Linked DNA regions of Homo sapiens: region 2 is linked to region 1. The links come from fine-mapping of genetic effects on gene expression. Tissue or cell type: subcutaneous fat. Region 1 holds a variant in brackets; the other region holds the start of a gene. All regions are shown on one strand. Distances are between the middles of the regions.

What was found. PIP is the estimated chance that this variant, and not a neighbour inherited with it, causes the effect.
Region 2: it holds the start of KCNC4, and the variant in region 1 is fine-mapped to the expression of KCNC4 in subcutaneous fat (GTEx, PIP above 0.99).

What each region holds. Positions count from the first base shown.
Region 1 is chr1:110,260,159-110,268,260 of GRCh38, reverse strand. It overlaps a transcript of KCNC4 not described here. Among named protein-coding and RNA genes, the nearest start is that of KCNC4, 54 kb to the right of the region's middle. RefSeq lists an enhancer at 5,314-5,393. The variant T/C (reference allele first, on the strand shown) is at 3,657.
Region 2 is chr1:110,206,635-110,214,736 of GRCh38, reverse strand. It overlaps KCNC4 (potassium voltage-gated channel subfamily C member 4), which reads right to left and starts at 4,423. Exons shown (of 4, transcript NM_001039574.3): 1 at 2,560-4,423. The coding sequence starts at 3,237. It overlaps KCNC4-DT (KCNC4 divergent transcript), which reads left to right and starts at 4,750. Exons shown (of 2, transcript NR_046546.1): 1 at 4,750-5,126; 2 at 5,533-6,287. RefSeq lists an enhancer at 1,938-2,826 and silencers at 4,064-4,743, 6,706-6,755, 6,766-6,825.

The sequences.
Region 1 (8,102 bases):
CAGGGGATAAGATCACAGGGGTGTCTAAAGCTGCCTTTGTGCAGCTGAGTCAGGTACTGGGAGGGGGTCTCAAGACCAGGTGGCATCTATCTCTTGGTCTGCCAAAATGCCAAATCTGAAAAAAAATCTCAAAAATATCTCAGATACATATGGGGAAGTTCTTTAGGTTTCACAATAGTGATGTTATATAGGAATAGCTGGGGAAGTTATAAATCTTGTGACCCCTGCTTACATGACTCGGGGGTAGTAAAAAACTTCTAGAAAAGCATGCTAAGTCATGGCAGGTTATTGCTTAACTATGCCTATTCTTCAGCAAAGTTAGAGCCCTTACCATGATTCTAACCATGTATTACGAATGCGACTTCAATCTCTGAACAAGGAAGGGGCAGTTTTTCTGGCCTCAAAGTTTAACTGTAAACCAAATTCCTCTCATAGTTATATTGGCCTCCAGACTAGAATAAGCAAAAAACCAATTTAGCCTGTGAGGTTAGAAGCAAGATGGAGTCTGTCATGTTAGATTTCTCTCATTACTTATAATTCTGCAAAGGCGATTTCAGTCCCTTCCTGGTGGTGAGATACATAGGAAGTGGGGCAAGGAGGATTAAGAATGACAGAATGTAGAGGTTCGCATCTTGCTAAAAGGAACAGAATAAGATGATGGCTAAGGGCATAACCTAATCCTAAGAGAGGCTGAAATGAAGTTTTGCTGGCCAGGGAAGGAAGCAGGAGCCGGATTGTAAATGTACTTAGGAGTGTGTTCATGTGGGCGGTGGAGGCATTGGGGAGTGGTGCTATCTGGAATGTACGGATTCCAGAAGGACATGGAGGCAGCGGGGAATAAGGACGGGCCTCGTATCAGCTGAACTGAGGTGTGTGCAGCACAGCACTGAGCCAGAAATGTACTTAGAGCCTCAGAGTCTATTCATTCCCTTCAAAGAAAACCCCTAGACAGCAACTGCAGTATAAATAGCAAACAAGCAAGCACATGGTTCTTCTGCATCAGAATGGAGAAAAGACGTTGATCCTGAGCAACCTGGAGTCCAGCAGCAGCCCTCCTGGGCCCCAAACCTTCCCAGTGGCCTCCTCAGCTCTCAGAAAACCAGCACCTTTCTCCCCAGCAAAGCCCACCCTACACAGACTGCTGAGCCTCCCACAGCCAAACAAGTGATGAATAGCAGCCCTCTCCCCAAGGGTTCTGCCCACAGAGGCGTGCGGGCTGCTTGCTAAATGGAAGCTACAAGACCTCTGGGGCTGCTGCAGTTTGTTTTGCTGCAGGCCTCTTGGCAGATGGTGTTTGCTCAGCCTGCCCTGCAAGCCAAAGTGAGAAAGTGGGATGCTTCAAGAGAACTAACCAGGAGCTAAGAAGGAGACATCAGAAGGGGCAAACATCCCCATGACAATGGCACATCAAGGCACGGGGTCCTCGGGTCCGGGGAACACAGACTTTAGGTCTCTCCTGGTATTCGGGTCCCTTGGGGTACAGATGCCAAGACTTAAGGGGAAGAAATGGGGCCCATACAAAGAGCAAGGGGGCCAATCTGGATCAAGAATGGCAACAACAGCTGTGGCAGACTTATAGCTAGGAGCAGAGGCTGGAGCTAGGCTGGGTTCAAATCCCAGCCCTGCCACTTAAAGGTTCTGTGCCCTTGGGCAAGTCGTTTTACCTTTCCTCATTAGCAAAATGAGAATAGTAATAGTACCTACTTCCTAGGGTTGCTAGGGAGACTAAAGGAGTTATCCCATGTAAAGTGCTTAGAGCAAGCCTGGCTGTTCCTAAGGACTCAGTGAGGGTTACCAACAATGAATGACTGTTTCCAAAGGGTCTTCCAAAAACCTTGCAGAAATTCTTGCTGCTTCTCATTAGGAAAGTGATGTCCTGGGGCTGGATTTATTTGTGGGACCAGGTTTGTTCTGCACTCCAGCCCCTCCCCTCCTCACTCAGCCCTCCAGGGTGCAGTTTCGGTGTTGCGGCTATGAATGTTTCAATATCTGATCCTTTCAGTCAACTGAGACTCTCTCCCCATGCAACAGTGTTGGGATCTGGTTACCACAAAGCCAGTACTTGTGTCCCTGATCAGCCACTTAACTTGCTTCCCTGCCCATTATTTCTCCCCCTATTTCCAGAGCTGTCGGGGGAATTGGGTGAATTGTACTTAAGCAGAAGAATGCCTGCATCTATTAAATGCTCCACAGTGCCTCTTCTGCCTTCATGGAACTTCAAGAGGCAGTCCCCACCCTGTCCCTAGCTCTCTATGTGAAAAGGGAACAAGGCTACATGTATTTCTTTTGTATTCCTGCGGTGCTCTGAGGTTTAGTGTTATCACATGGTAGGCTGGGTCTATCTGTGCTGAAAGAATGAATGAATGAACAAATGACAAACAAGGTAGGAAGGTAGGTGCAACAAGTCACTTGGGAGGGTCAACAAAGGAACCAAGGGCCTCTCTGGGGCTGGAGCACCACCAGCCCAGTTTCTCCGTGTTTTCAGGAGGAGAGGGTCTAGTGCTGGGCAGGACCTACCCTGTCCTACCCACCTCCAAGGGCCTCTTCCCTGGCTCTGAGTTCCTCTTCGGGGCCCCAGAACAGGCTCCCTGGTGCTAAAATGGAAGATGATGACTATTGGGCCTTTCTCTCCAAACCAGAGATGGTTAACTTTTTGACATAAGTACTGTTGTAATGCAAGAAACTCAAGCAGCCCAGAGGAGTGCAGAGTTCCTCAGTGTTGCCTGGGAACAGGGGCCTGGATGACTTCTTGGGCAGCCCTCTCTAAAAGCTCCTTTGGGAGCCCTCTTCTAGCAGCCTAAAACCTGACTGCTAGGGGCCATCCTCTGGGTGGGGAATATTTTATTTTATTTTATTTTATTTTATTTTATTTTATTTTATTTTATTTTATTTTATTTTATTTTATTTATGTTTTATTTCTGCTGCTGGAAACTCAGGGAGCCTGAGAGTTCTACTGTTCACTCATCAGCCACTTGTAAACTTATTTTTCCGAGGCTTCTAGCCTAGGAAGAACCTGAACACTATAAACGAGATCTTTCTCTGAAGATGCTCAGAGTGTGGGGGAAGGGACAGGGTAAAAGAAGTTACTAGTATAGCATCAATAAATTCTGTTTTGATTGCAAGTGGTTTTGTACTTTATTTTCTTTCACTCTCCCCCACCTTTTTTTTTTTTTTTTTCTGAGACAGAGTCTTGGTTCTGTTGCCCAGGCTGGAGTGCAGTGGCACAATCTCGGCTCACTGCAACCTCCGCCTCCCGGGTTCAAGTGATTCTCCCGCCCCAGCCTCCGAGTAGTTGAGATTACAGGTGTGTGCCACCATGCCTGGACAATTTTTGTATTTTTAGTAGAGATGGGGTTTCACCGTGTTGACCAGGCTGGTTTCGAACTCCCGACCTTAAGCCATCCGCCTGTCTTGGCCTCCCAAAGTGCTGGAATTACAGGCATGAGCCACTGCGCCCAGCCAGCTCTCTCCCTTCTTTCTCCCCCTCCTTCTCCAGAGACGAGTAGGGATCCCTCTTAGGGGTCTAAATAAAGAAAAATCTTGAGTTCCTTCCAGGAAAATTGCAGGCTCCTAGCTAGCCTTGAGAAGTAAATAAGCAACTTGGTAAGCAGGAAGGTAACAGTGGCTTAAAACAATAGCCAAGGAAGTTAAAGTCA[T/C]GTTTGGTTCCCTTTAGAAACTAAAGATAACATCTCAACATATGTTCCTGAGTTGTTTTTCAGAAACCCGGACCCCTACTAAATGGATCTGCTGGCATATCGACCTCAGATAAGGGGGGACTAAGGACTGAACTCTGACCTCTGTTCTTTCTTCTAAAATTCTTCCTGAAGGGCTTGGAGGAGGTCATGCCCATGAGCCAGAGCTAATAATTCTTTTCTGCTTGCTTCCAAATTTTTAGACAAAGCCTCCTTAACCAATCACAAATCAAAAAAATCTTTGAATCCACCTATGACCTGTTCCTCTCTCCTCCACTTTGAGATGTCTTGCCTTTTTAGGTCAAACCAATGCACAGACTCTATGTATTGATTTATGACTTTGCCTGTAACCTCCGTCTCCTTGCCTTCAAAAACTCTTACCTGTAAGCCACTGAGGACTTCAGGGTTTAAGCATTAGTGGCCCAATTCTCCTTGCTTGGTGCCCTACAATAAATGCCTCGGTTTCTTTCATTGCAGTCCCAATGTCAGTGTTTGGCTTTACTGCCCGGGGCCAGAAGACACCTGTTCAGTTAAAAAAACACCTTTTCTCTTTTTTTGTATGCAAAGTCCCTTTTGGAATTCTTCAGTTGTACCAAGAATAACATGGGAAAGAGATTCCCCCACCCCATCCATTTGACCAGGGAGAATGGGGGAGCTTTGTACCCAGAGGAGAGAAAAAGCCCAGAGGTAGAGATGCTTGAGAAGGACTCTCCCCAAATGGAGACCCCCATTCAGCTCCCCCCCCTCACTGAAAGCTTGCTAGAGATTGTTTTTTTTTTAGAGAGGAAGGCTGGTTGCCTTCCAGGCCTCAATTTGTTCCCCAAAGTAGTCTTTCCCACGGGAAGAACTGTTTCTTATTCTATGTATAAAACTGGATTTTTGAACCTCTCAATCAGTCTCCCATATGAAATGTACCCTCTAAACTGGAGTCCTTTATGTAAGGGCCACTTTGAGCCCCAGCAACACTGTGGGTCAGATGATGACCCTGTTTGGAGTGGCGTACATATTTCTGGGTGTCTGTCTGTCTGTGTTGCCCAAACGTGCTCCTATTTAACCTTGATCATCCTTTCTGGCTGAAGGATGCCAAAGTGAATATCGGTCATTCTATCTCCAGCAGCAATCTTAGACAGCCAAGGAAATGTCAACCCTAGGAAATAAACAGCCCTAATATTAGCCTAGATGTGTGGACATGTTTCCTCAGCAGATGTGGGAAAAAAAAAAACCCTTAAATTCTCATGTATTTTTAAAGCATGCCTCATGCACCAAAATCTCCCAAGATGTCACTAAATGTATTTTGGCCCAGAACAGCTGTTATTACCGTATCTCTTACCCAAGGGATGAGCCAGCATCCAGCCCTCAGTTTCCTGGGCTCAGGATAGCTGGCTGTCCCCAAAACAGGTTGAAAAGCCCCACCACTGCTGACCCACATGTTCCCTTTGCCACCAGGCAGGCAGCCATTCTAGAACCACAGCACATGGCAACTCCCTCCACCACAGAAAAATGTGCAAGTGACAGATGCAAACAGGTCATGAAACAGACACCAGAGGTCATGCTGTCACCAATGAGCATTTCCTGACAGGGCCTGTGCACAGCATCCTCTGTTGTTCACAGGGCTATCCTAGGTGATGGGGTTACGCGGAGTCTCACCACAGATGCTCAAGGCTTGACAGGCGGGAAAGACAGGACGTCCTCATCACGACAAATGCTTATTATCAGTCCTGACTGTGCAGGTAAGCACTATAGGAAAGCCCTCAGAGGAGGAAAAGACCAAAAGGAGGGGGTGAGGGCCGAAGAAATGGGACCTAAGAAGTACCTTGTCACAAATCTAGACCTCCACTTAGTAGGGGAGAGGAAGGGCTTCTGGAGAAGTATTGGAGAAAGGTGGGTTTGACAAGGTTGATAGAGACAGTGAGGCAGAAGGACAGCTGTATTGCTAAGAAATTAGAGCTTATCCTATGGGCTTCTGGGAGCCAGAGTAGGTCAAGTAAATGGACCTTAAAATGTATGATACAAGAACTGGAAACTCCCTATTGGCCTGAACTTCAAATTCACTTTCACAAATGCAGCGGCTGCAGATCAAAGAGGTAGGCACTGGGGCAGGGTAGGGTTGGGGAAGTTAGGGAAGAGGAAAGGCACAGAAAGAAGAAGATGCAGTCACTGAGCTCCCAGTTGCATCAAAAGACAAAGTACTCCATAAGAAGCCAGAGGTTGGCTGGGTGCAGCGGCTCATGCCTGTAATCCCAGCGCTCAAGGATGGCTTGAGGTCAGGTGTTCAAGATAAGAAGCCAGAAGTCTAAGGCAGTATACAATAAGCATCACATAATTGCTATAGCACCCAGAGTCTGTTCTTTTAAGCAAACAAATATTTTTATAACTTTGTATTTTATAAGCATTTATTATATAATTATATCTTTATAGTTCTAATAAAATGGAATCAAAACATATGGCCTCATTCACAAGATTTTAAAATAAGGTAGAAAATTTTGTTTCCAATCCTTTTTTAAGTGTACAGGTATGAGAGATTTAAAGGTATTACAAAACAGTGCTTTGGGCAAAATTGTGTAATGATGGAAACATCTAAACATCTGTTTTCAAATGTTTTTTCCTTAGCATGTCATCAATTTTTAAAAGATAATAAAGCATCACCTTTAAAATGGAATGCTTGTTGTTTTGTATAAGAAAAACAAGTAACTTTTTAATTTTGATAAACCTTAAGTACTTGCCATGAGAAAATTGGTAAACCTTTATGGGAATCAAAAGACCTCCCTGGTCACTCCATATCCCATTTCAAAGTGTTATAAGAATTCTGTTATATTTTACAGACCTTCTTTTTATAAAATTAACATCATCAATGACAACACAGCATTTTGTGCACATATGGCTTTAACTTCTTTGCTGCCCAGTAAAGGAATATTAAGTGTGGTTCTATCTTTGTAACCACACCAGATCCCTCTTTTTATTCCAGTCAATACTTTTTCTATAAAGCGTTTTTATTAGGGAAGTCATTTACTCTTTTCCCACTCATCCTCCCTTTAGTGGCTCAAAAATAGTGCTTTATCATATAATTCTCGTATTTCAACAAAATGTAGCAAATCCCATTAACTGAGATGTTAGAAATCTCTATACTTTAAATCAAATATATAGCAGATTTCCTATCAGGCATACTTTGTCCTAATATTCATTTAAAATTTTTTCAGCAATGTTTTTTATGCATCTGTCAATAATGCCTGCTGACAAAAGATTGCATTTTTTATTGCCATATTGTTTTTCATGTCTTATTTCAGCCATTTTTCATGGTAGAAAAAGCAAGTGTTTCCCTAAGGGCATATGGCTTTTTGTGTTTTGCAATTACTAAGAACACTAAAGGATTCACGCATATGTTTATCATTAGATTTAATGAAATGTTAAATACCGGATTAAGCATTGTAATGACTTCAAGCATCAATGAAAAAATTGAGAAAGTTTTTCTTCATGGTCTAGATGCTTAATTTTTAAATATCTTACTAATTGGGAAATTTTCTGCTATCATTAGCTAATATCTCAAGACAAAAACTCTTAGGACAATATCCTTCATTAACAATAATAAATGGCAACCATGTTTCAGAGAATTGTTTTTGCTTTTTATTTATTTATTTTTTTGAGACGGAGTCTCGCTGCGTCACCCAGGCTGGAGTGCAGTGGCGCGATCTCGGCTCACTGCAAGCTCCGCCTCCCCGGTTCACACCATTCTCCTCCCTCAGCCTCCCGAGTAGCTGGGACTACAAGCGCACGTCTCCGTGCCCGGCTAATTTTTTGTATTTTTAGTAGAGATGGGGTTTCACCGTGTTAGCCAGGATTGTCTCGATCTCCTGACCTCGTGATCCACCCACCTCGACCTCCCAAAGAGACAATTGTTTTTTAAATGTTGCATTTTTCTGTCAACTTCTTTTCAGATCTGATTGGATTCTCATTGCTTTTGCCTTATAAAGTGGCTAACAAAGAACTTATAAAGAAAGAAAAGGGTCACCCCAGAAATATTCTTTTTGTTTTTTATGCTTTTACTATTGATATTATCTCCAACCCGAATTTCTTTGCAGGAATCTTTTAAAGACATTTGTTCATTTTGTGAAAGTTATATAGACACATGGTAGGCATTTGAAAAGATGTTGGTTGATTGAGAAAAACCTGAAACCTGATAGATGATATATTCATCATTTCCTCTTTTTTTCTCACACTATCTAGTCTAAGATCATCAATTCCTCTTTACAAAGTCCTAACATCTTACAGATCCCAAAGGATTTTCAAGATCTGCAATCCATGGGGCTTTCAGTGGGAAGCACCCTTATGCCCTAAATGGTTTGATAAAGAGAGGGAAAAGCCCCCCTGTTCCTAGTTCAGGAGGATCAAATTTTTAATTCTCAGGGACTTCTC
Region 2 (8,102 bases), 54 kb after region 1:
AACAGCCTAGTTCAGTGGAAAGAAGGTGTTGTAATCACAAGAGCAAGGGCTTGGGAGTCAGGGACTCTGGCTTTGATTCAAAGCCTGGCCACTATCTGGCTGTGTGATCTCAGGCAAGTTGTTTACCTTCTCACAGCCTCAATCTATTAAACGGGGATAATCACCGGGTTTTAAGTTTATTGGGAGGATTAGAGATTAATGTAAAGTATATACAGCAATGTATCTGTCTGGGGTGCTCAATAATGAGCAGTTATTCATTAATTTGTAAAAATTATGTATTCCCACTTGTGTGTCCCGGGAGCAGGTGAGGGTTGCCTTTGCCTGGGCTCCTGAGCAGGAGGCAAGTCCTCTTTTAGTGCATGTGTTGGCCAGAGCTCCATCCAGATATTCACATCAGGATGAACAACCAGAAGGCTGGAAACTAGGGGTGGTTTCCTGCCTCTGCTATTAGTTAAATGTCTTTGGCAAGAAACTTAATGTCTCTGAATCCTGGTTTTCTCAATGTTTAAATGGAAGAATTAACCTTGCTCCATCATAAACTTCAAGACCTCAACTGGAATGCCTGGGCTGATGTGATTCCATGTCAAAGGGGCAAAGCACCCTGGGTTCCTGGGAAGACTTCCAGGGGCAGGCCAGGCTCTGAGCTTACTCAAAGAGGCCCCCTGGCTTGGCCATTCAGCAGTGAGTTAGGAAGAAAATAAACTCAATGATATGTGGGGTGCCACCTGGAATTCCAGAGGGGAAGAAGAGCAGGTGAAAAGCCCCTAGAAGTCCCAGAATGCTCAGAAATAGGGCCTAGCTCCCCTAACCACCTCATCTCATCCCTGCTTCCCTGGTTTGTCCCCTTTCCCCATCTCTATCTCTATCTCTCCTCCCCGACCCCCAACTTTGAAAGAGTCTGAATGATGTGTGCCTGCCCTCTCTCCCCTAATGCAGACAGCCAAGTGCTAACACTAGCAAGGTTAGTGACCTACATGAGAAGTCTGTAGAACTCACAGCAGACCCAGGCCAGGGGCATCACTATGCCCTCACCTTCTTAGCCAGTCTCAGGGCTGCAAGGAAAGAAACCCAGACAGTTGCCTCTAGCTTTGTTGTCAGTCCTGAGAAAGATCCCTGCCTTCTCGTGGCTGCCTGCAGCCCCAGCCCGGTATGCCATGGCCCCTGAGACCTCTGCTCCTCCCTTCTCTTCCAGGCAGAAGATGCATCTGCCCTGGCCTGGCATTTATGCCAGCCTGGCTTTTCCCTGCAGGCCTGTTCCCCAATTCCCTACCCTGCCTTCTTCTATGACTAGGAAGGAGTCCAGCACAGGGGTGCTGGGAAAGGGAGGGTGCTCTGAGACTCATTAACATGACAATTTGGGATGCTGGAGGAACCAACCAGGTTCCACAGCAAGCAGCAGTCCCCAGACCCAACAAGTTACATTGCTCTTTCCTGTCTCCCAGACAGACTCCAGCCAGGCTTTAGGCTGCTGACCATGAGATCCGACACCAGCCCCCAGAGTTTTCTTTCTTTAAAGAATCTAAAGCCATCCTTCAGGGATTTTTTTTTTTTTTTTTTTTTTTTTTTAGCTGTCGAAGCATAATGGGGGAAGCACCTCCCCCGTTCTCCCCTTTCACCTAAAGGAGTTAGGGAAACTGGATTTACTTGGGGAGGAGGCGGTAGGTCTTGCCTAAATCAACCTGTGCTTCCCCCTTCCCTCATACACCCATTTCAAGCAGTAACCTGAACCAGGGCTTTCTGGAAAGACAGTTTGTGCTGCAGCAGAAAGAAAAGAAGCGGCAACAAAAATCTGGTATCATCACCAGGAAGCCTGTGGCTGGCCACTGGCCGTGGGAGCCTGCAGAGCCTAGAACGCTAGGCCCTTCGTGTTTAATTCTCCTCTCACCCCAGCTGAGGCCAGGACATCCCAGGTGTGCAGGAAGCCTCAGGGGCATGGTATCCTCCCTGGCAGAAAGAATGCCTTTCTTAAACCTGGAAAGGAGGCCGGATTGTGGTCTCAGCTTTGCCTCTTCTGAGCTTAAGATGCTGAAGCCTATATCCTCCTCTCTGAAGTGCATAGTTGTGAGCACACTGAGCTGCTGGGAGGATGTAAATGAGGTGGCACGGCATGGAAGCATCTAACAAAACCCACCCTAGTTTCCTTCCTCTCAACCCTGCCTGCCCCCATCAGAAGACCAAATTCCAGCTCTTCCAGGACCGTAGTCCTGTGTGGAGTGGAGGGCAGCTGAAGATAGGGCAGCCTGTGCAGACCAAAGAAGGGGGTGGAGGAGCTGAGCTGGGCACCCCACTCACTGGAGGGGATGCGGCAAAGCAGGCAGCTGGGACTGGGTCCAAGTAGTAAGTCAAGTGTGTGCAATCTCCTGATGGAGCGTGCAGGGGAGAGGGTGGGAGTGTGTAATTCCCCTGCGAGCCACGGAGGGGGGTTGAGAGGAAGGCGGGAACAATCTGCGGTGGTAAGGTAAGTCAGGCTCGGTCCCTGCTCCTCCCGGCCCCTACCCACCACCCACCACGGACCCCTTGCAGACCCAAGATGGGGAGACACGGGCTCCTGCCACTCACCCTAGCGGCCCGGGAGGAGTAGGGATCCTCGAAGAGCGCCCACATGCGGGGCTGCCAGCCGCGGCAGCCCCCAGACCCGGCGCCATGGCCCGCGCCTCCCTCGTGGGGGCCCAGTCGCTGCAGGGCCAGCTCCCGCTCATCGTCGCCGGCCTCGTCGCTGGGCCCCGCGCCGCTGCCGCCTCCGTCCGGGCTCTCGAAGATGTCGAGCGCCTCCTCGGCGTCGCGGTGCTGCCGGTAGGTCATCCAGCAGCAGGGTTCCACGTCGGTCTCGTCGATGCCCCAGAAGGTGAGCTCCTCTTCGAAGAGCGGCCCGCACACGTCCGCGGGGCAGTGCAGCTTGCCGGTGCGGTAGTAGTTGAGCACGTAGGCGAAGACGCCCGGGTGCCTGTCGAAGAAGAACTCGCAGCCCCCGCCGCCGCTGCTGCCGCTGCTACCCACACCGCCGCCATCGGTCTCGGGCCGGCCCCCGCCGTCGGGGTCGGCCAGCCAGGCGAGGCGGGTTCCCGGTAGGGTGCGCAGGGTGCTGCGGTAGGTCTCATGTCGCGTGCCGCCCACGTTGATGATGATCTTCTCCGACGCCTCGCCCTTGGCCATCTCCTCCTTCAGACATGTTTTGGACGGAGGCTTGTTCCCCGACTTGCGCCCGCGGTAGGAGGAGACACACACCGAGCTGATCATAAGAAGCGCTGCGGGGCTCCGGCTTGGGGCGGCCGCTGCCCTCCAAACACCCTTCCCGAGGAGGCAGCGTCAGACGGGGGAGGGGGAGGAGACGAAGAGGAGGCAGGAGGCGGTGGCGGCCCCCTCTGCGGCTTGGGCTTGCCCCTGCCTATCCCCCTAGGACGCGGAGCGGGAGGAGTTGGATTTCTCCGGTACACAGGTGGTTGGGGTTAGGGCAGGAAGCTCCGGAGAGAGGGAGGCGCAGAGAGGGAGGACCCGGGGAAGTAGAAGCAAGCACACACGCGGTCCCCCGCTACGACGGGACACACAAACGCTCTGGGCCGGGGACACGCCCCCGCCTTCACCCCGACCAAAGACGAGGAAGCGCACAGTCCACGCGCACCGCGAAGGTCCGGGGCGCTCGCGCTCACACGGGCCACCCTCCGGCTCCAAGACCGCACCAAGCCCCGGAATAGCCGGCTTCCCCGCAGCGGCGGCAGCGCAGCAGCAACAAGTCCTCCGAGCGGCTGCCGGGGCCAGGCCGACACTCTCACGGCAGCCGGAGCTCCGTGGGCCCGGGCTGCTTGCGGTCAACACGAGGCGGCGGCGGCGGCATGTGGCCTCTTCCCCCCATTCATAAATCCAGCGCCGGGCGAGGAAGGCAGGCGGGGCAGAGCAGAGAGCGGCGGCCGGGCGGGCGGGGGCTGCGCAGGGCGAGGCGGCAGCTGGAAAACAAGCGCGCCCGCAGGAGCGAGCCTCGGGTCCTGCGTCCGCGGCTGGGAGCTGCGCCGGACCGGGCGCAGCGCTGCGGGGGCCGCGCTGGGGCGGGGGTGCCTCAGACGGGGCGTCCTGCGCGGCGCCGAGCCTGGGGGGCGGGGCCGCTCTGGGGAGCCGGGCTCTGGGCACTGGCGAAGGTGTACCGGGGGCGGCGGCCGAGCGGCCAAGGACACCTGCAGGCTTCCCGGGCCGCGCGGAGAGGGAGCCTCAGCGCAACGCCCCGGCGCCTGGTTCCTGCGATCTGGCGGCGCTGGGAGCCACGCCATCTACGCGTCTGCCCATCTCCGGGCGGGGCGCCGGCCTTGGCTCGCGCGCGGCAGGGGGCGGGCGCGAGGTGGCATAGGGGAGGGGGCGCCTCGGCGCCGGTGGGCTGGGGCCCTAGGGGCTCATGGTCTCCCTCCGGCGCTGGCAGCGGCCGCCACGCCCCAGTGGCGCCTTTTCCTCCGGGGCCCCGCCTCGCCCAGACGCGCCCTTCGCGGGGCGGGGTGGGCGGGGCGCGGCGCAGCGCGGGGCCGATCCGACTCACTGCAGGCCCTGGCGACCGAGCGCAGTCTTCCTCCCCGGAGCCGAGCCCCAACCAAGCGCGTCACCTCCTCGCCGCCAGTGCCCAGCCCAGCGCGCCGCCCCTGCGCGCTTCCGCCGGCAACCCCTCCCGCCCCCCTCAGCCCTGCTCCGCGCCTCCCCCGGGCCCGCAGCTCCTCCCACCGCAGCCCGCTGACACCGAAGCGCTCTCGACCCCTGACCTCTAACCTCCGCCCGGCTCTTCTTGCTTCGTCCCTCGCCCCCTCCCCGCCAAGCTGGTCGCACTGTTGCCGTTTCACTGCGGCTGACGGAAGGCCAAGGAAGAAAGAGGGTAGAGACGCTGTCGCGAGGATCAGGCTGCCCTCTCCTTTCCCAGGGACCGTGTTGGGGCCTTCTGACCACCCCGCCCCGCATCCTGCGCCTCGGAGGCCCAACGTAGCCCAAGACACCCATGGTCTTGATGCTCTCCGCCTCTGTCCCAGCCACCAAAGTCCCCGCGATGGAATGGAGGACGGGGTGGCCTTGGGCAGAGAAGCGCTTCTTGTGCCGGATGGAAGGAAACCGTAGCTCTGGCTGTGTTCATCGCGAAATGTTTTATGGATGTGGAGTGGGTGGGTGGCCCTGAAAAGTCATTAGTTAAAGCCTTTGCTCGTCATTGCTCTGGGGTCCACATAGGAAATGCCCGTGTCCTGCCTCATGACCCCTTCCTGTTTCTACTCTTATTCTACCCATTACAATTTGACTTTGCCTGTGTATATGTCTCCTCTCCCCTCCCTAACCCTGAGCTCCTGCAGGCGGCATTGTGCTTTTTCATCTTGATAGCTCCCACAGTGCCTGCCTCTGAGAACCTGTTTGCTAAGTGATTGAGAAGCTGCCATACCCAAAACGTAGGCACCAACAGGACTTTACTGGCCCTATCCCAAGAGCAATTTCCAGATTCATTTGTTTTTGTTAAGTCCAGAACCTATTTTACATCTTCATATTAATCCCCATTGGGTTTTTTTTTCTTTTTTACAGCTTCAGGCAGCCTCCATGCCTGTCTGGATGATGTAAAGAGATCTTGAGGCAGAAATGAAAGGTGAATGACACACCTGCCCTGGACACCTGTGCACCTTCCCAGTTCCAGATCAGGCAGTACCTAGCTCAACTGAGAAAAACAAGACAAGGGCCTATGTGTGTCTCAGGAAAGGTTAAAAGCTCAGTGCCAATGCAAGGGATTTTTACAAGCAAAAGTCTCATTATTAATGAGGCCAGAAAACCAAAATGACAATGATCTTTGATGATCTGTACTGACACGCAGGGGAGGTGAGTTAATCAGAAACACACATTTACTGGCACCCCCTTTGTGCCCAGTCCCTGCTCCTCGAAACTGATGTTTGTATTTCAGAGTTTAGCTGTCTTTGAGTTTGCTGCAGTGAAAAGAAATATCCCAAGTGTGACTGGGAAGAGAAGACCCGGGACAGGCCAGAAACTGGAGTGAGGAAGAAAGAACCACAGAATATTAATGTAATGAATAACTTTCAAGTCCTATCTGGTCCGTGTCCTGGCAAAGTCCCTTGGGGTCTCTCCCCTGCTTTCCGTTCATCAGGATGACTGAGCTCAGTAATTGTAACAAAGGGAGTGTAGTAGGCAAGGGGACAAAACCCATAGTATCCCACCCCTGATTGACTTATTAACTCAATGAACACTTATTGAATACCTACGATATGCCAGAAGCAGTTCCGGGTACTGGAAATACATCAGTGAATAAAACAGCCACTCATCCTAGTAAATCTGCCCAACTGGTGCTTCCACTCTGCGGTGCTTGTGGATAGTGATGAGCACCTGGGGAGATGGGTAAAGGGAGAAAGCTGCCAGGGAAAAAGGAGGCCAAGAGGGAAGGGAGGAAGATCAGAAAGTTGGGACACAGGCATAGGAACCTAGGAAGAGCTGACAAAAACAGAGGGCCCAGCCTGAGAGAGGCAGCTGGGTAAAGGTGCATGGGGCCAGGACTCCCAGCTCTGTGCACTGACCAGCTCGGGAGAGGGGAGCTCAGCCTCAGTCCTGAGGCCTCCAGAGAATGCCTCACCCTTGCTGAAGGTTTATTCTAGAACTCTGGGCTCACCTGTTACGTGTACCTCTCTGAGGGAGTCGATATGCTGCAGTTAGCACTATGGGACTTGTCCCCATCATTTCTTTGTGTGAGGTCTTGGTGTTCCCTCAAAACACAGAGCCGGGGAAGGATAGGAGAGCCCCCTGCCCAGGCTACTGTGACACAGCCTACCATGGATGTGAGGGTGCTGCCCTCTGGTGGTGCTAGAACATCCTGGCTCCAGACCTCGCCCTGAGCTCTGGGGGCTGTGATGTGGGCAGATGGGGTGGCAGCTGATTCTGGGCTTCCTGTTGATTCCAGGACCTCAGGTACATCTTCTAGCCTAACTCTGCCATTGGGACTCTGCCTACTCCCTCCCTTCTTCATTCCTCCAAGACCTTGATACCTGACAGGCTTAAGCAAGACCACAAAGCAGCCACTATTGGAAATTCCTAGTTCCCCAAGCTTCTTTCCCTCATTTTCACCTTTTCTCTTTTGTCCTCTCCTTAGTGCCCTGGCTTCTTCAGGCTGTCAGGGAAGAGCACCTGTCTGAAAGCCAGTTCACAGAAGGTGTCAGCCACAGCGGGTTTCCCTCATCAGGGGTGAGGGTGTGGTGAAAGAATAGGAAGAGAGGGCCATGGGAGATTCTAAAGGGGCACCGATGGAGGCTGTCAAGCACCTGCACCCTTTCCAGGCCCCCCCTCCACCCGCATAATAAGGTCCTCACCCTCTGAGTGCCGACGCTGACCCTGTCCGTAGGAAGCTGAAAGCCTGAAATCAAAGCCGTTTACCCTTCCCCTTTCCCCACTGGGAGCTTTGTATGGGCTCAGCCTCTTTAGGATGACTGGAGCCATCCAATCTCCTCTCCATCTTCCTTCTTTGAAACCTGTTTGTGGTGAGGGGCTCCAGGCCAAGGCAAGGTTCTATCCATTGGTGCTCACACTTTCCCTTTTTGGTATTCTAGCTCCTGCCAGGGACTGACCCTCCTTCAGGTCCAGGCCAAGGAGCCAGCATCCTTTCCCAGCATGCCTCACTCTCTCCCAGCCTGGAAAATTGAATTGCTTTATCAGACTCATTAGAGGGTGATAGGGCCTCCCCGCTCATGGGGGAACAAGAGAAGGGAAGGCAAGAGCAGGCTGGCAGCCTCCTGTCTGCGTCTCAGCTCACTTCATCCTGCCTCCCCCAACCCCAAGCAGCCTGCAGAGACTTGCAGGCTCCAAATCAAATGTGAGAGCCTTCTTTGGGGGGAGGGGGGTTGGTGGGGGAGGGGCTCTGGGGAGAACCTAGCCCTAGTAATTCAGGTCTTGTGAAGATCAGTAGAATGGCTCTGCCTCAGGACTGAAAGCAGGGTTGGGTTGCTGTGGTAATCCCAGTGAAGTTGTATCTGGGGCTCAAAGGTGGCCTTTGAAGGCCCAGCTCTTAAAGAGAAGAGATCAGAAGCTCGGGCCTGGGCAGGGCTCAGGGCCTCATACACTATGGACCTGGAGTCATAGGGTTGGAGGGGACCTGAGTGTTA